3 linked regions of the Homo sapiens genome follow. The protein of the gene in region 1 interacts with the protein of each later gene in a biochemical or structural test. Each region holds a gene or a part of one and is shown in the gene's direction. Other genes may lie near its edges. The genes, in order: SHH, PTCH1 and HHIP.

Region 1 (7,867 bases):
CAGCCGGGCAGACGGGACCCAAGGCACACAGGCATCAAGCAGGACTGGGGAGCGTCCAGGGGCTGGGGGGCCAAGCAGACGGAGCATCCGGAGGCTGGGGAGTGTCCGCGGGCTGGGGGAGCAGCAGGGGGCTTGGAGCTGGCAGTTGCACCCACATCTCCCCCTCCCACGTTCGCTCCTGGGTTTTGGGATCCCCATCAGGGAAGTCAGCAAAGGAGAAATTCTGATTTGAGTGCTCGGGAGTGAGGCCTCAGCGCGGCCTGTCGGCTTTTTCTCAGCCCCCAGGTGAGGCCCATGTGCGCAAGGGTTTAATGCATTAACTGTCTGGGGCACCTGCCTCTTAACTAGGCTCCAAGATGGAAGCAATGATGGTCTTGTGGAAGGATCTCTAGGTAGCTGGGGTGCAAGGAGCAGCATGCAGACGCAGGGTCCCTTCCTCCCTGGGCACGAGGCCACCTGCCCACACTGTGCCTCCCTTTCCAACTCCCAAATGTAGCTTCAGGCTCCCCTGACAACGGTGCTAGAGCACTTTGAAACTGTACAGAGGCACACACCTGAGGCATTATTTAGACCTAAGAAGAGGTGTCCATTACTTAAAATGAAGACGAAGTGACTCAACAAAGGCAGGCAATGGTCTAAAGAGAGAAAATCAGCTCAAAGGCACACAGCAACATAGTTCAGGCTGCACGTTCACATCCGAGCTGATCGCCTGCCTTAGGATGTCTACTTCGACAGAGCTGGCTGTGTGATCTTTCCAGCGTCCCCAGAAACTGCAGGGTCCTCATCTCTCAGAGCCTGCAGCCTTCATGCATGTGAGCCGGGTCTCCACGGGGCTCCACGGGGCTCCACGGGGCTCCACGGGGCTTGGTGTGCAGGCGGACAGGCATGAGGGCAGGAATCCCAGTCACCAAAGTGTCTCCTGCACCCTGCTTCACAGAGTGGCCCAGGCCGGGAAGAAGCCAGGCTGCACCCACAGTCATGGGGCCTGTGGCAGCTTGGGGGTGGCCCCGTGCCCGCTGCACAGCACTACTGAGAAACGCTGCACAGTGGGCACCCAGCGTAGCTGGCTCCACATGCCAGCCATGGTCCCCCGAGGCCCTGTGTGTCTTGGCAGCTGCCTCCCAGCGGGCCTGCCCTCAGCGCTGGTGCCATGAGGATGTGGCTGCAGGAGTCCAGAGAGCCCTGCAGCCACCCCAAAGCTCCTGGGCTTTGGCACGGAGAGGACAGCATTGCCTCAATCCACCTGCAGCCAGGCCACAATCAGGGTGCTGTGCAGAGTGTGGCTGGATTTCCTGGGCTATCCAGAGCCTGAGCCCTCCAGGAAGCTGGAGACTCACATCCCCAGGGCCCGGGGATGGGGAGGACCATGGAGTTAGGGAAAGGGGGCTAAGGTGCAGAATCCCTCCCAAATTCAAAAGGCCCTGGATGCAATCACAAGAGAACTGGAGTGCAGAAGTTCCACCGGCCAAAACAGGGAAAATCCAGAAAGAAGTGGAGACTGGATGGCTGGATGGAAAGAGATTGCGTGGAATTACTATAAGGAAGAAAAATCAAAGGGGAGAAGGACATGAAAGATTAGAGGCCAACCCCAGAGACTAGAAACAGAGGCAGCACCTGGAGATGCCAGGCAGGCGGGCTCCATAACTGCAGAGCCCAGCGGGTACAAATCTGGGAAAGGAAAGAGGGGATGAGGGGGGCGCAGAAACTGCTGACGGGACCAGGGGAGGATGAACGAAGGAGGCTGCCTGGCTTCCGGGCCTCCCGACCTGGGACTGCGGGGATTTCCCAAACCGGCCAAGCCCGAGCCGAAGGCAGAGTGAGGAGGCCATCTAGCGGCAGGGGCCGGAAGGAGGGGCAGGGGCAGTGCCCAGGAGGGAGCCTGGGGGCTGGGGCAGAAGAGGAGGCAGCTTCTGTCCTCAGCAGGGATGCTGGGCAAGGGGTGGAGGTGGGGGAGGGTGGGGGAGGGAAAGCTGGAGGAAGGAGCGAGGGAGGGATGCGCGTGACCCCAAGGAAGAGAGGCAGAGCCCAGGTAGATGAATAACGGAGCCCCAGCATGTCCGGATGTCTGGCCTTGTCAGGGAGGCTGGTGTTTGGAGCCTCTGCTGGTGCGGGGAGGGGGCCAAATGGTCTGGGGGGGGGGGGGAAGGCAAAGAGATAGAGCCACCTGGCCTCTGGAGGGGAAGGCAGTGCTGGGCCGTGGGGAGCAGGTGGGATGGAAGGACAGGGAGTGAAGGGCGGGAGGGCAGAGCAGCAGCTTCTCTGGGGGGCTCAGTCAGCAGCCTGGTCTATAACTGGGATTGCTTTCTGCGCCGAGCTCCCCTCAACCCATGCAGGGGGCAGGCCCTCTGAACTTAGGCGTGGGGGCAGGCTTTCTGGCCCATCATTATTTCACTCTGGAGGATCGGCCAGTCTACAAGGGGGGCGGCCCCTGAGGTGCTCTCCAGGGTGTCTAGGGCTGTCTGGAGATGGAGGGGAGGGAGGGGGCCTCACGCCATCCCTTAGGGCAGGGAGGTTTCAGGAAATGCCCTGAGTCACCCAAGCTCAATGCCAAGCCACGTCTTCTCCCTGCGCTCTGCTAAGAGGGAGCTGACCGCACCTGGGGGCACCCCACGTCCAGCTGTGCCCACAAGGAACTCTGTGCAGCTCAGGCTTTTGCTTCCAAAAGCACACCCCACCCACCCTGCCCCTTGCAGAGGTGAGCTGTGTGCACATGCCACCTCCCGGCAGGGCTGCACACCCAATCTCTCAGGCCCCAGGGTGGCAACCCGTGTGGGGGGCCTTCTGCCTGCATTTGGAAGGGAGTAAGTAGCGGGGAAAGACAGGGGGAGGAGGAGGGACTGGGGCAAGAGGAGATGCCAAGGGTGGAAGGCAGGGCAGTCAAAAGTTTGCAAATGTCCCACTGGGCCAGGTCGCTGGTCCAGCCCAGGCACCACCCAGTGATGTGACATCCACATGCTGTGCAGGTAGACACATCAAACAGGCCGGCCTCCTCTGGAGAGAACACGGGTCCTGTTTTGTGTCTGTTTTTACTGGGAACGGGACAGGCAGCGCAGACACACCGCCTGGAGAATCCCTGGGCTCAGCTGAGCTCCAGCTCCGCTCAGTGGAGGCTGCCGGGGCCTGGTCAAGTGGACGCTGCTCCCCCACGGTGCTCTCCTCCAGGGATCACGATTCGTCACAAACCATGGAAAGGAACAAGAAAGAGAGGCGGGAAGGGGAGCCCGGGTCAACCTCCCCAAAGGCACCCAGGCCACCGAGTCTTGTTAACGCTCAGCCTCTCATGCCCAAGACAGATGTGTCCTAAGATGCTCCTCTCCTTCTCTCCCCCACCACACACACAAAAAGTTGATCTGCAAAGGGAACTTCTGGAAACTTCCATCGTTTGAGGGCTGAGCTTCACAGGGGTCCTCTCCCCCTCCACTCCAAGGGCCCGGGGTCAAGGGAGAGTGTTTAACTTCACAGGGCCACATTTGCAGCATCTGATGACTCCTCAGGGTCAGGATTTCCCCTCCACGTAAATAACCCTCACTCTCTAATCCTATGCTAGAGGAATCATTGCACATGAGTGGGATGGCGATTGAGAAGGGGAAGGGCATGATCTGTTTTTTTTTTTTTAAAAAAAAAAAGAAAAGCAGGGTTGAGAGGGAGCTTCAAATTTTATTTTCCTGGTTTACTTAGGACTTTTGAGTTTTTTTCCTTTTTCTGCAAAAAGTGAGGTGATTATAGACTCAAAGATTGCCACCTCCTGGGCACTGTGCCCTCTTTCTAGGAAGCCCCTCGTTAACCAGAACACTGTTCCCCCAGGGCCCCTGACCCCTTGGGCTGCAGCCCCTAGGACTGGTGGCTCCTGTGCCTGAAGACTGCTGGCCTGCTGAGCCCCCACACAAGGCCAGCTTTGCAAGGAGCCTGAATTCCACATTCAGCTCACCCCTGGCTCTGCACTTTGCTCTGATCGATCGTGGGGGTTGTGTGAGCACAGCTTCGCCCACTCGCCTGCCCCCCCCCCAACACCCTGCAATGGCCTCCACACACCCAGCGCACACACTGGCCCCCACTCTCTCCCCTGTGCTGGGGTGCAGCCCCCAGACCTGCTTTGCCCATCCACCCTGACGCCCGCAGTTCACTCTGTAACTGCCCTTGAGCACGCCTCCATCCCATTTGCAGAGCTCTACAAAAAAAAAAATGTATTAATTGAAGCACAATAAAAGAGCAGTATTTTTACATTTTTCTAAGGCACTTAAAGCATTTCAAATACCAGTGCTTTAAGTTATGGTCACTCATAATTATCCTCGGTCCACAGAGGCTGAGTCTTCAGGAGGGGCTCAGTCCTCTTTCTTCAAAATGCAGGGAGAGCCAGCCTGCACTATAAAGTCCCTGGGGAAGAAAAATTAAATAACAGCTGGGCAGCTGTGCCCCTCAAATGTGTGAGCGACTCTGTGCTTGATGACTGAAGCTTGCGGGGGTTTAAACTGTCCTTTAAAAACTTAAGTTGGTTTTAACTGAAGCACCTACCATTCCAGGGAAAGTCAGGGGGAAACGCAAGGATGTACACAAAGCCGGGAGTAACTGCTGTTACCACAAGACATGCGCTCCTCCCTCCCGCCCACCTTTATCTTAGGAAAGATTTTTTTTTTTTTAACTCGAATCCTTCAGGTGAAAATAAAGCAACAGCAGCAACAGAAAAAAAAAACGTAGTCTTCTTCAGGGTTAACATCAGAAGACAAGCTTGTGCGGCTTTGGCCAATCAGATGCGCCCCTGGCAGCTATAATATAGTGCTAAAGGCAGCCTCTCTCACAAGCTCTCCAGGCTTGCTACCATTTAAAATCAGACTCTTTTTGTCTTTTGATTGCTGTCTCGCGACCCAACTCCGATGTGTTCCGTTATCAGCGGCCGGCAGCCTGCCATTCCAGCCCCTGTCTGGGTGGGGAGCGGTGGAGAGTCCCCCGCAGCCGCGGCGGGCAAGGTTATATAGGAAGAGAAAGAGCGAGGCAGCCAGCGAGGGAGAGAGCGAGCGGGCGAGCCGGAGCGAGGAAGGGAAAGCGCAAGAGAGAGCGCACACGCACACACCCGCCGCGCGCACTCGCGCACGGACCCGCACGGGGACAGCTCGGAAGTCATCAGTTCCATGGGCGAGATGCTGCTGCTGGCGAGATGTCTGCTGCTAGTCCTCGTCTCCTCGCTGCTGGTATGCTCGGGACTGGCGTGCGGACCGGGCAGGGGGTTCGGGAAGAGGAGGCACCCCAAAAAGCTGACCCCTTTAGCCTACAAGCAGTTTATCCCCAATGTGGCCGAGAAGACCCTAGGCGCCAGCGGAAGGTATGAAGGGAAGATCTCCAGAAACTCCGAGCGATTTAAGGAACTCACCCCCAATTACAACCCCGACATCATATTTAAGGATGAAGAAAACACCGGAGCGGACAGGCTGATGACTCAGGTAGGAACCCAGCGCCGGGGCGTGGAATGTGTGGCTTTCCAGGGGGTTACGAGAAGCCGAACACTTCCAGACTTAACTCTGTTTGCTCTTCGGGCAGATAGGAAGGTGATTTCACCCGCTCCTTCCCCACCCACCTGCCCGCCCCCCATCTCTTCCTCTTCCTGGAGGAGAATGGAGGTCAAGGGTCCAGCTGGAGAAGTTTAGGGTGTGGTGGGGGTGAGGACGGTAACAGACGTGGTTCATTATGGCCCTGATTTGATGAGTCTTGCTACAATGGCCTTCCCCATCCTACCTCTGCCCTGGCTTGTAACTTGGGGAGACCTTCACTTTGGGGGCGTCGGCCCTTTCCAAGTCAGGAGTGGAAATGGAAGGAGAGGCTGGGAATCCCCCTCCCACAAACATGAAGTGGTCTCCTGGTACTGTACGAACGAACGAACGTAGCCTTGGGCATTGGAGCTCAGAGCCCCCACGTTTCCCGTTGCCTCTGTGGTTTTCTTTCCCACCACTACCCCCACCCTGCACCTCCCCACCAAAGAATTCTCAACTGGAAAAGCCAGGAGGCGGTTCTGACAAAAGGCAGGGGCTCCAGGGGAGACTCCGCCCGTCCCTGGGTGGCTGGCTGTATCGCAGAGCTGGCTTTGCGATTGCGTGTCCGCAATTGTGCCCATCAGAGTGTGAATGTATTGATATTTCTTTAAGGATGCTCTTTCGTTCTTCCAAGCCCGAGGTACCTTAGGGGAGGGACTTAGAACTTATTGGCATTGCATCACTTTAGTTTTCAACCTGCTTGCATAAGAATTAAGAGCGAATAAATATTAGTGTGGGGGGAGGGGAAGCTAAGCAAAATATGAATTCCTCTCTCTCTCCCCACCTCCTTTGAGATTTCTGAGCTGCCAATCTCCCAGCCAATTCTAGACTTTCTGAAACTCCATGCACGTATAACTGAAGCCAGAAATGGGTTTCCTTGCAAATATAGGTCAACATCCTTTTTATTGCCCTATTAAAATATTCAAGTCCTACCTTTAGGGCTAGGTGCGTACAGCGGCTGATGGAGTGGCGCTGGTGGGGCGCAAGTGCAGGGGGAGGGTACTGACGGCAGAGAGAGAGGAGCTACCTCCGTGCCGCCCTGCTTCCCGACCCGATTCCCAGGCTTGCTTGAGGCCGAGAAAGGCGAGGGGCAGGCAAGGTAGCCTGCTCCAGCTGTCGGAAGGGAGAGGAATGGGAAATGGTCCTGATTTCCTTGCTCTCCCTCATCTGCTCCCGACCACCTTAAATCTGGACCGCGAGTGTGGACGCGCGCGCCAGTGCCAGACAGCAGCGCGATCCACAATTAACTCTGCACGGGCCATGGGGTGCCCGTTGCGTGCAGCTGGCTGGAGGGAGTTCTCCGGCTAGCCCGAGGCGCCCATCCTCTCGTCACCCTCACTCCCCGCGGAGGAGGGGCCTTGCCAGGGTCCCTCGGAACCCGAGAGGAGGGAGGCACTGCGGAGAGAGCGGCGGGGGCGTGGATACCCGAGGTCCCAGAGCCAGAGTGGGTCAGCTTCTGCCCTGCTCTGCGGGAGGCCAATACCGCAGAAGGGGTCCTGGGCTCGCACACCTTCCCAGGGCTTGGGCCTTGCAGCCCTGCTGCAAAGCTGCAAGCGCACAGAGCCGCGCAGCGAGGCAGACGCCTGCAGCCCCACTTACTCCCGGGTTATCGATCCCCCGCGGCTAGGGTTTCAGTGCGCGAGGGGCTGGGCTGGAGCCGCCGGGCTCTGCTGCTCCACGCGCGGGAGCGCAGGCACCGCAGGAGCTAACAGCAGCGCCGGGCTCGCTGTAGTGTCCCCGGCGGCGGGGGCGCGGAGATGGGGGCGCCCGCGCAGGGGCCGGGGCGCATCGCGGGCTCCGCCGGCCTGCCCTGGGACGCGCCCCCATCCCCAGTCCGCCGCCTGCCTGGCCTCTAGGCCTCCGCGTCCCAGCCGGAGCCCCCAGCCCGGGGGCCTCCCCCCGACCCCCGTCCGCCCTGCCGGGGGACGCAGGGCCCAGCGGCCCCGCGCCCGGCCACTCTCGCCGCCGCGCGCACAGGCAGCATTTGAACTTCTGACCTTCTGTCAACTTCCCTCAGACGAACGAAACGAAAACAAATACTTTTTTCCTTGGGCAGTGGCTATTCCCGTTCCCAACACAAAAGGAGGGGGAAGGACGGCCCAAGTGGGGGTTGGGTGAGGAGAGCCAGGCCGGGATTATCAGGCAGACCCCACAAAGGTCCCCTAAAACCGAGGGGGGTAGGGGCTGGCAGTCTGTGAGGTATCCCCGGTTGATCCCTCCCCTACCTTCCTTCTCCCGATTCCAGGAGTTAAGGGTGGGGGAGGAAGGGATGGGGAAGGCGGAGGCTCGGGTGCTGAGGGCAGGGGCGGGGTGCAGGAGGCGGCAGGGGAGCCCCAGGCCGGCGG
Region 2 (7,101 bases), on another chromosome or scaffold:
GAAAGAGGTTAGGTAGTTTTTAGAAGAACGCTCTTGAGAGGGAATTAATTATTGGAAGACATCTCTCCGGAACTCAGGCTTGCTGGTTCACCTTCAGCATAAACTCACAATTCCCATCCAAAGCCCTTTGTGGAAGTTCTCCCTGGATTGTGTTAGGTGGCAGTTATAGCCAGGTTTTCTTTCCTCACCCTAGGACGTTTATCAGTTTGAGATTTGTGAACTAAGCAGTTCTTTGAGAAGCCTCGTTTTTTATTTTCTTTCTTTCTTTCTTTCTTTTTTTTTTTTGAGACAGACTCTCACTCTGTCACCCAGGCTGGAGTGCAGTGGTGCAATCTTGGCTCACTGCAACCTCCATCTCCCAGGTTCAAGCAATTCTCCTGCCTCAGCCTCCCAAGTAGCTGGGACTACAGGCATGTGCCACCACACTCAACTAATTTTTTGTGTGTTTTTAGTAGAGACGGGGTTTCACCGTGTTAGCCAGGATAGTCTTGATCAGGAGATCCCTGACCCCGTGATCCACCCACCTCAGCCTCGCAAAGTGCTGGGATTATAGGCGTGAGCCACCGCGCCTGGCCTCGTTTTTTATTTTCAAAGCCATGTCTGGCAATTTCCTGGCTCCTCAGCATTGCCAGTGCTTTTCTCTGTGGTGCCCCTTCTGCCGTGCCCTTCCGAGCTGGGTCGACTTCCACCGGCTTCTGTTGGCTTCCCCTATTAACAGCCCAATTTTGTAATTTTTACTAGGTCAGCAGAAGATTTGCCAACGCACTGCAGAATTTAGCCCTGTGTTTATTCTAGGTTATGGAGTGACTTTTGAATCTGTACTTATTTATTCTGCGTACTATAATCACACACAGGAATTTCTTTCTGCTTAACTCTCCTTGACCTTTTATGTTTCTTGCTCTCACACCCCACAGGCTACTCCAGAGGCAATTTGGAATGTGCCTATTAAAACCTCAGGGGACACGTGTGAAATTGTATTTCACGTTTTAAAGGGGGACATTTTGATATACTCGATCCACTTTATATAAAAATGTTTAACTGTAAAATCAGGGTCGCGTGACCTCTTGGAAGCATTCTGGAAGGGAACTGCTTCTGTTTGTTTTAAATTCTATCTCGAGTGTGCTCTCTGTTCTGCCTTTGTGGATTTGGTTTGGTTAGGTTACTAGCAACACGTTAGTAGTTTAGTTCCCAGGTTTGTGCCTTATCGGTTTATGGAATTATTAGAGATAGAAAGGCCCAGAAACAGTCAAGACTATTCCTATCAAATAGGCTCTTGATGATGTAGCAAAAGAAACTCTTAACATCTGTCACGGTTTCAAATGCTTCAAGAGGAAAGGGAAAGAAAAATATTGTTTAAAAGCATCTTTATTTTCGAAGCAGTCCTCTGATTGGGCGGAGGCATGTTGGTGACCTCTGAATTTTTTTTCTGCTCCCAGGCAGCGGTAGTAGTGGTGTTCAATTTTGCCATGGTTCTGCTCATTTTTCCTGCAATTCTCAGCATGGATTTATATCGACGCGAGGACAGGAGACTGGATATTTTCTGCTGTTTTACAAGGTACATTTTCAGACTGCTGTGGCCTTTTGATTGGGTGCAGAATGGTGCTGTGAGAGAACTCTTTCAGCCTGTGGACTTATAAAGGAATGTGGGTAACGGGGTTTGTGCTGGTGTGGAGAACGTAGGGGAGAGATTGGACAGAGGCTGCTTCCCTAGGGGGACATCAGAGTCCCTGGGCTTCCTTCTCCCCTGCCGCAGCTGAACAGTCTCACAGCCCTCAAGATGCTGGTTCCGATGACCCCTTTTTCCATCATGAACTGATGTTGCCGATTGTAGGAATGTTTCATATCTCTGCATTAGAGCAGAACAAGATTGAAAAACACCCATCTAGAAAATATATAGTCCTTTGATGGTGGTTTGGTTTTGTTTGGAATTGTGCTTTGAAGGATTCATCATCATGGAACTTGCTTTTGAAAGCCAAATTTAGGATCAGTCCTCCATGTGGCCTCCTCAGACTGACTTTTATCTAGTTCACCAGGCGATGAACCAGGTGATGTTATCAACCAGGCGATGTTTCTGGAATTCAGCAATGTGATGTTTCTCTCCTAAGTCAGAGCTGTGTAAAATGGGTATTCTCCGTACACAGTGAAAAATGGCAGAATGAAAGCACCATTTCCCTGTTTCAGCATAACATTGCAACATGTTTCCCCTCCTTTCAGCCCCTGCGTCAGCAGAGTGATTCAGGTTGAACCTCAGGCCTACACCGACACACACGACAATACCCGCTACAGCCCCCCACCTCCCTACAGCAGCCACAGCTTTGCCCATGAAACGCAGATTACCATGCAGTCCACTGTCCAGCTCCGCACGGAGTACGACCCCCACACGCACGTGTACTACACCACCGCTGAGCCGCGCTCCGAGATCTCTGTGCAGCCCGTCACCGTGACACAGGACACCCTCAGCTGCCAGAGCCCAGAGAGCACCAGCTCCACAAGGGACCTGCTCTCCCAGTTCTCCGACTCCAGCCTCCACTGCCTCGAGCCCCCCTGTACGAAGTGGACACTCTCATCTTTTGCTGAGAAGCACTATGCTCCTTTCCTCTTGAAACCAAAAGCCAAGGTAATCTGCCACAACTTAAGGCTCTTCCTGTCTTCAAAAAAATAACAGAACCTTTGGAGTTCATCAGATTGCTTCTACTTTTCTTCTTTTTCCTTAAAAAAAAAAAAATTTCGTTTAAGTATGATACATTTCAGTCCTCCAAAAGTCAATGCTTTTAGAGCATAGGGCCATTTTAATGAGGTCATCTTCCATGGGAGTGAACCTCTATGCAGCAAGTCTTTTTATGAATGAGGTTGTTTAAAAATGTGATTATTGCCACTTGCGGTGGCTCATGCCTGTTAACCCAGCGCTTTGGGAGGCTGAGGTAGGAGGATTGTTTGAGCCAGGAGTTCGAGAACAGCCTAGGCAACAAAGGCCAACCCTGTCTCTACAAAATATTTTAAAAATTAGCCAGGGACAGGTGTGGTGGCTCACGCCTGTAATCCCAGCACTCTGGGAGGCCAAGGCCAGCGGATTGCTTGAACCCAGGAGTTCGAGAACAGCCCAGGCAACATGATGAAACTCCATCTCTACAAAAAATTGCCTGGGCATGGTGATGTGCCTATAGTCCCAGCTGCTTAGGAGGCTGAGGTGGGAGGGTCACTGAGCCCAGGGAGTCGAGGCTACAGTGAGCCGTGATGGTGCCACTTCATTCAAGCCTGGGTGACAGAGTAAGACCCTGTCTCAAAAGAGAGGGGGAAAAAAGGCATGGTGCTGTGTACCTGTAGTCCTAGCTACTTGGGCAGCTGAGACAGGAGGATCATTTGAGCCCAGGAGTTGGAGGCAACAGTGAGCCCTGATCATGCCACTGCACTCCATCCTGGGAGACAGAGTGAGATCCCAACTCAGATACATAACAAAACAAGGCTGGGCATGGTGGCTCACGCCTGTAATCCCAGCACTTGGGGAGGCCGAGGTGGGTGGATCACCTGAGGTCAGGAGTTCAAGACCAGCCTGGCCAACATGGTGAAACCCTGTCTCTACTAAAAATACAAAAAAAAATAGCCAGGCGTGGTGGTGCACACCTGTAATCCCAGCTACTTGGGAGGCTGAGGCACGAGAATTGCTTGAACCTGGGAGGTGGAGGTTACAGTGAGCCGAGATGGCACCACTGCACTCCAGCCTTGGCAACACAAGACTGTCTCAAAAAATTATATATAAAACAAAACAAAATAAAAATGCGATTACTATGATTTTATCCTTTTTCCTATGGGAGAACAACCCCTACAAGATAAATCAGTTTAAGTGTGGTGGTGAAAACAAGGTATTAACTAGACAGCTTCTCTTTGTCCAGGAAGAGTCAGTGGTGCTCCCTGGGGTCTGACCTTGTGCCTCTTCTGTTCCAGGTAGTGGTGATCTTCCTTTTTCTGGGCTTGCTGGGGGTCAGCCTTTATGGCACCACCCGAGTGAGAGACGGGCTGGACCTTACGGACATTGTACCTCGGGAAACCAGAGAATATGACTTTATTGCTGCACAATTCAAATACTTTTCTTTCTACAACATGTATATAGTCACCCAGAAAGCAGACTACCCGAATATCCAGCACTTACTTTACGACCTACACAGGAGTTTCAGTAACGTGAAGTATGTCATGTTGGAAGAAAACAAACAGCTTCCCAAAATGTGGCTGCACTACTTCAGAGACTGGCTTCAGGGTAAGACGGCGTGGGAGGCTCTCGTCCTTTCGGTCTTTTGCGTGTTCAGCTTCAACAGGTTCCTTTGTCATGATTATGAGAGCGTTAGATTAGAATGTAACACTGACGTGTTTCATGGACTTTTAAGAGTTGCTCAAGATTCTTACATGAACTGTTTCTGCAGCAGCCTCCCAGATCTGGCTTTTACCTATAAAATGATGCAGATAATTCAGATGAGCTTCTGTGAGAATGTACAAGTGCACGTCAGGAAAAGGGGAGCATGTTGTAACAGGTGGAGCCGAGGCTTCTGGTGCTCTTTCCTCTTGGATAGACGGTGGCTAGTTTGGTGACCACATAAAATCAAAGTGCGGCTGGGATTTCCAGACTGATTGCCAAATTATAGCTTACTGCACCAGGAGATGCTAGATAAGCAGTGGACATAGTCTTACACTCCATATTTTGACCATCTCTTTAAAAATTATCTATTTCTAATTGACTTTGTTTTTAGAGCAGTTTTAGGTTCCCAGGAAAATTGAGCAGAAGGTGCTGAGATGGCCCATATCCCCCTTCCTCACCCACACACAGCCCCCTCGACTGTAAACATCCCGCACCAGAGGGATGCATTTGTTACAGCTGATGAACCTGCACATTATTACCCAGGCTCCATAGTTTACGGTTGGGTTCATTTTGACCATTTTTTGATTTGGTACTTGAAGTAAAGTTATAAATGCTTAGTAACATTTCACATTATTTTATAAATAATTAAATTCTGTTTTAAAATGCCTTTCTTGGTGGGGCACAGTGGCTCACGCCTGTAATCCCAGCACTTTGGGATGCCAAGGCGGGCAGATCACCTGAGGTCAGGAGTTCGAGACCAGCCTGGCCTACTAGTGAAACCAGCTCTCTACTAAAAATACAAAAATTAGCTGGGCGTGCTGGTGGGTGCCTGTAATTCCAGCTACTCAGGAAACTGAGGCAGGAGAATCGCTTGAACCTGGGAGGTGGAGGTTGCGGTGAGCCTAGATTGTGCCATTGCATTCCAGCCTGGGCGACAAGAGCGAGACTCCATCTCCAAAAATAATAAATAAATAACAGTGCCTTTATTGGCTTCTTCACTCTTAGAAATGTTTCTAGGAAATATTCATCAGCTGGAGGGGAAAAAAAAGTCTAAATTTTCTCCTGACCGACTGCACGTAAATGTATGCAGTGATTCCAGGAACATCTGTTCATTTATTCTGCATTGACACATGCAAAGCCAAGTAGAGAATCAGGATAATTATCCACCCAATTCAAGCAAAACACTTTTACTGGAGTACCAAATCATTATGGCCCCCAACATTTTTTGGCTTGGATTATCCAAATGATTGTCTTAATTTCCCACTTAATTAGGCTTGTTTAAACACAGATGTAAGTGCCTTTTTTGGTCTGAAGTCAATACACTTGTATGTAAAGACTCAGCAGCCAGTTTCCCTGAGAGTTTGCAGGAAATGGTCAACAACTTGAGGTTGGTAGAGGATGGTTCCATACAGCTTCTGGCCTTGACTTGTGTTTACCAGAACTTTGTGTCTACATGTACACCCAATTTGACTTTCCTTTTGGAGGAAGGTACAGAGAACATGCCATGATTATTATTTATTAACACCCTCCTGAGACGAACGTGAATTTGTTCCAAGTTTTATTTTTCACATTTAGTTTAGAAAGCAATGGTTTTTGGGATAATGAGTTAAAAGAGAGACAGTGGAGAGAGTCCCTGCTTTCATTTTCCCCCCATTGACCAAAGACATATAAATAACTTGCCACAAATGACAAAGAGATCTGCTGTGCCCTGCCAGTCTGTGAGCAGAGAAGGGTTATTGTAGAGTGTATTTCAGTGTCTTTGGCCATTGCTCTGGAGGCTCAATGTGGCATGTTAGGCAGGGATTGGGAAGGGGGTAAAGGGGGATTGTCTCGAGGCAGTGCAAAGGGTTAACCTTTTTATAGAGCATTGTAGATCATCTCTATACGTTTCTTCCTTTATAGATGTAAATCAGCTGGAGTTGAGTTTTTTTTTTTAAGGTGCATTTGAATCATGTTTTGATTGCTGTGTGAACAGCATACACCTAGACCAAGTGAGATCCATTGGTGCTAAGCAATCAGGGTCCCAGGCAGCCCTGGGACTCCATGACTGACTCTTACAGGGTCCGCTAGAGCACTCAACACAGAATGACCAGACACTGGAGCCCTTTGCTGCCTACACGTTTTTCAGGCCTGTTGAATGGTTGATGTGGTGTTTGAACATTTTCTACAAGGAAACAATTATCCTTGAGTCAGCTTTCCTTGCTGACATTTTTGTGTGGCTTTTAAATGGTGGGAGCCTCATTGGTTTTTAATGGAATTCCCATTAAAACTATGTCATCTCATTGGTCTTTATCGACATTACAATAGTTTGTCTTTGATTTTTTTTACTCCTAAAACTATATAATGGTTAATTTCAAAACTATCCCACATGTCACATCTTAAAACATACATGCAAATAAGGCAGAGTCAGATAAAAACCATGCCTCGAGTCATGTACAAATGTGTTCATTTTTATTTCACACTGGATTATGCAAACAAAATTTTGATTAACATTTTACTTCTAGGGTCCCATAGCTGAAGGAAAATGGGCAATTGGGGTTATTCCTTTGGCCTAGAACTTTACATTAGAAAATAATTATTGACACAAAATATTCATAAGAGGAGAACTTCTAGCTAAGATATTAAGGTTTGCTGTAAAATAAGTAAAAAGTCACAATTTTCTAGAGTGTGCATGCATTGGAATATGAAGCACTGGCTAAAGGGCAGTGGAAACCCAACCTTATCCCTTGTTTTGTATCCAGGGTCGTACCTTG
Region 3 (8,089 bases), on another chromosome or scaffold:
GTCTAAATCCATAACATACCTTATAAGATCCCATGCAATGTGGACCCTGGCTATTTCTCTGCCCTTGTTTCTTGTATCTGCCCAAATATTGCCCCAGTAAACACTTTTCCTGACAATGTATACAAAATTATTATTTCTCCCAACCCCTGCAATCTTTCCCCATGCTCCCTTTTCTCTGCAGCATTCCTCCCCATCTGGTATACTCTATATCGTTACCCGTCTTCCCCATTACAATATGAGTTCCATGAAAAAAGTTTTGTTCACTGCTGTGTTCCTAGGGTCCAGAGCAGGCTCTGGCACACAGTAGGTGCTGACTTTTGAAAGAAAGACTAACTGTAGAAAAAATCCTAGAAGCAGCCCTACCATTGTGTCCATTTACCTGAATTATAACCAATCTTTAATTTTTAAAGGCTGTGTATTTATTGCCTCGCTTTGCTGGCCGTCCTTCCTCTGTGGAATCACACTTTAGTAGAAAGGTCAGCTGCACTTCCTTAGTGATGGTGCACTTTAAATTGTGTGCTTTCTTCTATTTCAAAATTTACTTTTTGAGACAGGGTCTTGTTCTGTCACCCAGGCTGGAGTGCAGTGCAATCATAGCTCACTGCATGCAGCCTTGATCTCCTGGGCTCAAGTGATCCCCCCACCTCAGCTTCCCAAGTGGTTGGGACTACAGGTGTGCTCCACCATGCCCGGATAATTTTTCTAATTTTTTTAGAGATGGAGTCTCACTATGTTGCCCAGGTTGGTCTCGAACTCTGGGGCTCAATCAATCCTCCTACCTTGGACTCCCCAGTTGCTGGGATTACAGGGGCAAGCCACTGTGCCTGGCCCAATTTAAAGTTTTTATAATGCAAATATGAGCTCCATTTTAAACCTTTAAAAATTATCAACTCAATCAAGATCAGCCACTCAGCAGCATTTATTGAGAGGCCGGTTGCTCTACTATGAGTCTAAACTAAACTATGTTGGCGTCTCCAAAGAAGGAAATGCAATTCCTGCCCTTCTGGAGATTATAATCTCATGAATATTCAACTTGCACATATAAAAACATCTCAGGTATTTACCAATGATGCACAAAAGAAAATAAATAAAATGTATCTATATGCTTTTTAGATGAAGTGCAATGCTTGAAAGGCCATTCAAACTAGAATAATTCTTAGAAGAGGTTGCTGTTAAGCCAGAATTTAAAGAAAGAGACAAAGATGGATAAGTATAAGGTAGGAAAGAAAGAGCACTTGCAAAAACAAAAGGAAATGACAAATACATGGCACTAACTTAATTAGTTACCTGGAGTGTATAAACTAAAAATCTACGAATTTGGCCTCTAGCCTTTCCATTCTGAGTTATCTATTCTGCACTTCTCCTCAAATGTATCAAATTATATTCTGAACTCAAAAGATCCTATACTTTAAACAGTGGTTGGAGTCACTTCGTACTCCTTCCAAGTCATCCTAAGTCTCAACTGAAATGTCATTTTCCCAGAGAAGTTTTTTCCAGTCACTTAATCTGAAATAGGTGTGCTTTGTTATTCTGTACCTTAGCATTTCTTTCATACCTTTTACCACAATTTATAACTGTAATTTTATTTGTGACCTTATCATTTGTCTTCTATACTAGATTATTAACTACCTAGAAGCAGGGTGTTTGCATTATTTTTCAGTACTATATACATACTGTTTAGCACGGTGCCTGACACTTAATATATATTTGTTGAAATGGAATTAAATAGTACATATTTCTGTGAAGGCCAGAAATCCATACATAAAACTGATTCCAAAACTCAAAATAATTTTATTTCAAACACTTAACAAAGTTAAATTGTCCTCACTTCTGATACACAAAAATGTATATTCATATAACTCTCTTGATATATACATATACATACAAACATAATTCACATACATGGTAATATTCTGACCTTTACCTCTGAAATTAATTTCAATTTGTGTCATATATTTCATTTTTTACAATAAACTAAATACGTTCATAAAAATAATTAATTCTTCTAAAGTAGGGAATATAACCCTGGATAGGACCAGGGTATGAGGGTGGGATGGTCCGAGCTGGTGCCAGCTCATACAAGATGCATTGGTGCACATTTTAAAAAGGACCCACATCCTCTGGGTAGACACAGACACACAACAACATAAGCTCTGCTTGGTGAATGGAGCCTGGGCAGGACTTCAGCTCCCACTTTATGTGCTCTTGCACAGGGCATGACCTATGCATAGGTGGCAGTCCTGGAGAGGGTTGCTCAGTGGTGGTGTGAGCAGAAGATGTGATCTAGCCACCCTTGGGCTGTTCCACTCCTTGCTGGAAAGGGCCGATTTGATTTGTCTGGATTATTTTGGTCAACAAGGGGTCCCTTCTTCTTTTCACCACTCTGTCGGTTTAGCTGAAGAGGAAGACCTCTCCAATGAAAGAGGACCATTTTTCACGTTCAAGTGTATGCATGGCTATCCTCTGCTTCTTCAGCCTCCAAGGGGGCTTTTAAGGTTTAATCTAAAGAAATAACCCTGTATTGATTCTTGATTCCTAAGAAATTATGCTGTCAGTCTGGTTGTAGGCAAGGGTTGCAATTTTCCCTCTGGAAAAAACAAATCAGAAGTTAGTCCATTTGTATAACACTGCTTAGTAACTGTTTAGAAATTATATCAGTAACACTAAGAATAAGCTCAAGCTATCTCCTAAGTGACCCAATTTATTGACTTTCAGGACAAACAGTATATGAAATCAATTCTAATTTCCATATATCAAGAAATAACAAGCATGTCTTATTTCAGTAATCTTTTATAAACTTTCTATATCTTAGGGTCGTAGGTTATAACAGATGCATAGTATTTTAAAACCAAAATAAATTTACCTTTAAGTGGCCTTAGTATAAGCCATAAGAAAGGCCTGTTTCAAAACTACTAACAGGAATTTATCAGAGTAGGAGCTCAAACTACTGAAATACGATTTTAGAAGGACTTTTATTTTGGAAAAAGAATATAAAACTGGAATTTGGGAAGAAAGGGTTAGATAGTGGAAAGCACCCCAGATTGGATCCGAGTCCTTATTCTCAAACTACCTAATGAGATGAAATTGTGCAAGTGATTTAAATTTGATGAGATTCATCTGGAGATCTATTAATGAGTTTAAAGTCTTAAAGTGCTTACTGCTTTCTGATTAATTTTATATTAAAAGTCCTCAAAGCAGAAAGAATGTCAGATAAAAAAAAGTATGTGAGATCCAAAGTGGACTTACAATCACATGCATGAAGAAGTCATGTGTATACAACAGCCCCTGGGGAAAATGTTAAATATGTCATGGGGGCTCTACATTTAGCTGAGGACTGGGCCAAACATCCTAGCAGATTCTTTTCAGTTATTCTGATGTGTCATCTCTTTGGGGAAAAACCTAACTTCACTAATATCCAGGCTCAGGAAGTGAAAAAGACAGAAGCCTTACCTAGCCACTGTGACCAGAAGTGATTAATTTAATCAACTGCCCACCTCAACCATCACCAACTTTTGCAATCACTTGGCGAAATCAATGTCCAACAAGTGAAGCAAACCCAAATGTGGTGAACATTCCTCCATTGCCAAAATGGGACAACTGCCTTATCTCCTCATCAAAGCCCATCTTCTGGGAAATCAGCTTCTCTGTTAAATACCCAAGTGGGCTAGAAGCGCATTTTGTGGGCAACCCTATAGAAGCTCGTCCTGATGCCAACTTGCAGGGATCCAGTAAACCTCAAGTCACCGCTCCTGATAACGTAGACATCTTTTTAGACACACTATTTACACAGACTTTGTCTAGCTGGGGAAAAGGTTAATTTACTTGTATACACGGGGATAAGTAGAGCACAGCGCTTCTGGATGCCCTCAGACTTGCATCTAATTCTTTCTCCAGATCTAACGCCTCTGTTTCTACACCCAGGGGAACCTCTCCCCAGGGACTGCGCGCGCGTGCGTGCAGGTGTGTGTGTGTGTGTGTGTGTGTGTGTGTTTGTGTGTGTTAAAACGAACACTAATTCCGCGCCCAGCTTCTCTCTCCGTCCACCTGCGGCCCAAGAACTTGTGTTCCCAGATGGTACCAGCGGGGCCCGGCTTATTCCCGAACACATGTGGGGACCTGAAAGGGGCGTCGGGGACTAACCCGCCCAAACCGTGGCAAACACTCTGGGAGGCCGACTTGGGCTTGGCCTGTGGCCCGACACACCGCCCCACTCCGCGCACACGCGTCTGTGCCACTTCAGTGGCTTGCAGGACCTCCGGCGAGGATGAGTCTCCAAACCATCTCAGCCTACTCAACGGCATCTGGGATGTCCCCCTGCCTCTAAGTCAGACCCCAAGAAAGATCTTTGAGGACTTGAGCTTCACGTTGAAAATCAGTGTGGAAAATGGGGGTGTCAGTGCGGCTGGGGGAGACAAAGGGGCCCAAAAGCTCCCTCCCGTCCGCTCCAGCCCACTTAGTTCACCCTCCCACGGGGCGAGGGGCGGGCCGGGGGGCTGAGGTGGGGATGGCCCTGGAAGGGGTCCCTCCCTTCCCACCTCCTACGGCCCACTCTTACTTACTTTCTTTCGGAGCCTCAGCTTGGCCGCCTTTAGCCCAGGCAGTGCGGAGGGGAAGCGGGGAGGAGAGAGGAGCCTGCGGGCTGCAGCAGCCGGGCAGTCCCGGAATCTCCGGACTGCGTCCCTGCCCCAAGCCCGCCGGGAACCCGGGCCGTGGACGCCCCCACCCGGGGGCCGCGGCGAGGCGGGCGCGCGGGGTTCAGCACCCTCGAGGCTGGTTCCGAAGGCTCGCGGCCCTCCCCCTCCGTCCGCCGCCGTCGCGGCTAGCCGCCCCTCCCCGCCGCAGCAGGGAGGCCGCCGGGGCCCGGGGGACGCGCTCGCGCGGGGGCCGCCCCCTCCCCTTCCCTCCACCCTGGGCGGGGGCGCGCGAGAAGCGGTGACGTCAAGGGGCGCGCTGTGGCAGCACCTCCCCGCGCGCTAGTTAAAAAGAAGAAGAAAAGAGGGAACGAAACATGAGAGGCTGTGTGAGAAGCTGCAGCCGCCGGCAGAGGAGACCTCAGCATCATCTAGAGCCCAGCGCTGGCCCTGCCTCCGCCTGCCCCGCCGCCGCCGTCGCCGTTTCTGTTCCTGCTACTGTCCCACCTAAACAACTCCCGTTACACGGACAAGTGAACATCTGTGGCTGTCCTCTCCTTTTCTTCCTCCTCTTCCAACTCCTTCTCCTCCTCCCACTTCCCAGCCGCAGCAGAAAGCCCCCAACCCAACTGACACTGGCACAACTGCAAACGGTGTCATCCGCACAACTTTATCTCGCTCCTCGGGCTCCCCTAAGGCATTGGACCCATCGCCGCGTCTTTTATTTTTTGCAAAGTTGCATCGCTGTACATATTTTTGTCCCCGCCACCTCCCTCTGTCTCTGGAGTGCCCTACAGCCCCGCAAACTCCTCCTGGAGCTGCGCCCTAGTGCCCCTGCTGGGCAGTGGCGTTCCCCCCCATCCTCCCGCGCCCAGCCCCTGCTGCTCTGGGCAGACGATGCTGAAGATGCTCTCCTTTAAGCTGCTGCTGCTGGCCGTGGCTCTGGGCTTCTTTGAAGGAGATGCTAAGTTTGGGGAAAGAAACGAAGGGAGCGGAGCAAGGAGGAGAAGGTGCCTGAATGGGAACCCCCCGAAGCGCCTGAAAAGGAGAGACAGGAGGATGATGTCCCAGCTGGAGCTGCTGAGTGGGGGAGAGATGCTGTGCGGTGGCTTCTACCCTCGGCTGTCCTGCTGCCTGCGGAGTGACAGCCCGGGGCTAGGGCGCCTGGAGAATAAGGTAGGCACTCACCGGCTTCACGGATGCGTACTTGGCATATTGGCTGGGTGGGGTTCCCTGTGGCTCTGGCAAAGCCGGTGGTTGTAAGAAGGTCAAAACTTCTTTGGGGGAGTTCTTTCCATAACTTTTCTATAGCGCTAACGTGATTCCGTTGTGTGTTCCTCTGGGGTAAGCAAGTAGCATTTCCTCCCCCAGAGTCCGCGGTCGGGATGCTGTGCAAACTTGCCTATCTCTGAAAACAGACGTTTCTGCGGTACCCGCACCCTGGGCTGGGTAAATATTTTAAAAGAATCGCGATGAACAGTGTGTTTTGGATCGAATGGGGCATTGGCTGCGGTGAAACTGTAAATTAAGGTGGCTGTGGTTTCCGGCTTATTTTTCTAGGGTAAAAAGATTTGTGCTGTTTTCTCCACGTGCTCGGTTAGGGAGAGGATTGAATCGTAAAGGATGTTGAAGCATGGTTGGTTTATGATCCCCAGCCCCGTCAGAGGGGGGTGTCTTGCATTACATTAGTTAAACCAACAGAAAGGAACTCCTGGTCCTCCGGTTAGGGACCTGAAAAAAACTGGCGAAAGATTTTGCTGGGGCGTTATTTATCACATAAAACTGAGACGATTCTCCGTCATTTTGTAACATTATAAATTCAGACTTTCAGGGTCAGTTGGTGTCTTGGAAGATCTACTCTAAGAATTTGTTTTAAGAGTAATGGCATTTACGTTATCCTTGTGTTAATAAGTTTAAATACTAACATGGTGTTTGTTGACTGTAAAGGCACGCTTGTTTTTGAGTTTGCAATATCGTTCTTGCCAGGAGATGCAGTCATGGGTGGTATCTACTGTACTCCAAGGAATCATTGCTGGCTCACATCATTAACAATCACTGCACGTGAAATAAACAATCAGGTGTCTTTGCTCCCCCTCCCTTTCCCCATTTTAGGTTTAATTAAGAATTCCTCTGTTAGAACACTGCCAGTTGTCAAGGTCTGAGAGACTCTTGGAAAACTTGTGCTTCAGTCTTGCTGGCCCAGGCATAATAAAAAAAAAAAATACCCAGGCTGAATCTAATTTTTATGCTCAGTTCACGGTAGATTTCACTCTATTCTCATGTAAACAGCTCCTACGAATCAACATATGTGTCTGGGTGGTATCTCTCACTTTGTTTTGTAACAAAAAGCCATATTGCATCATTTAATTTGCTCAAGTCATGCAAATAGGAAAAAATCAATAGGACAAAAAGGGGTCGACTTATCCTCCTCCCCACTAAACTGCTGCCCACACACAGAGTCCTGTTGCTTATGGCAAAAGAATAACAACAACACCATTGTATTTGTTAGTTGGTTCACTAATGGGTGAAACTAGAGAACATCATTCTCTTTCAGTCCCCAGCTCTGTCCAAATGTTCATGCCTTTTGAGGGAGCATTTGTCCAACTCCTTCTATTCCCAGATGAGTGAGAACTGTCTTGCTGCAGGTTTTCAGCTGCAACTCTCTTTTTATTCTTACCATATGCAGCAGGAGCCTGAGATTCAGGGAACAGATATTCCAGGATTTTATTCAAAGCAATGTCTTTAAGCTCCTGTGTTGCAACTGAATTAAGTTTCAAAATAGCTATATTCAGGTCACCTTAAAGGTTTTATCAGGAGCCCTAAAGAACCAGGAAATTCAGAGAAAAGTTTAGAAATATTTGCCATTAAGTCTCCCTTGGTGCAATACGTACTATGAATATACTGATGATCTAGAGACCCCTGCAATACTCAACTCTTCCAGAGACATGTGGAATGAAAATTTTGTTCTTGACTAAATGGTGAGGAGAAGGGGAAGGGGGATGGGACCAAGGGGAGTTATAGCCCTTAAGAGAAGTTATATAAAAATTTTTTTAAAGAAATCATTCTTTAGGAAGCAATCTGCCATGTTAACTATATACATTCCTTTCTGTTTTATGTGCTTCCAATCTCCAACAAACCCCTACTCATTTGGAAAGTGTGTCTGAATTAAGTTTGGTACACTAGACTTTTGCTGGTTCTATTACAAGAGGTTTATAAATCAACAATACCCAAATTGTTCAAAACAGAGATTTGCTATAGCTATGCATATGCATTCTTGACCTATGTTAGTTTTCAAGTTTTAATAGTTTTTAAAACATGTTATTTTATAATAAACTTCAGTGTTTCCCTTTTTCCCGTAAGCCTTCCTGGATTATAATATATGTTAGGATCTTATTTCATAATGTGTATACAGGAGAGATGATTGCTATTTGAAAGGGCCCTTTTTTGTTTATGGAAGA

What was found.
Region 2: the proteins of SHH (region 1) and PTCH1 are reported together in a solved structure, tested with the Homo sapiens proteins (5 studies listed by BioGRID and IntAct, with this or other methods).
Region 3: the proteins of SHH (region 1) and HHIP form a complex in vitro, tested with the Homo sapiens proteins (one study listed by IntAct).

What each region holds. Positions count from the first base shown.
Region 1 is NC_000007.14:155,809,391-155,817,257, reverse strand, and holds the start of SHH (sonic hedgehog protein isoform 1 preproprotein), read left to right. Parts: upstream 1-4,794; 5' UTR 4,795-5,135; coding exon 5,136-5,435; intron 5,436-7,867.
Region 2 is NC_000009.12:95,464,267-95,471,367, reverse strand, and holds part of PTCH1 (protein patched homolog 1), read left to right. Parts: intron 1-1,348; exon of another isoform or gene 1,349-1,436; coding exon 1,437-1,555; exon of another isoform or gene 1,556-2,214; coding exon 2,215-2,617; exon of another isoform or gene 2,618-2,709; intron 2,710-3,921; exon of another isoform or gene 3,922-3,942; coding exon 3,943-4,252; exon of another isoform or gene 4,253-4,439; intron 4,440-7,101.
Region 3 is NC_000004.12:144,641,148-144,649,236, forward strand, and holds the start of HHIP (hedgehog-interacting protein precursor), read left to right. Parts: upstream 1-5,008; 5' UTR 5,009-5,528; coding exon 5,529-5,807; intron 5,808-8,089. UniProt on the Homo sapiens protein: Modulates hedgehog signaling in several cell types including brain and lung through direct interaction with members of the hedgehog family.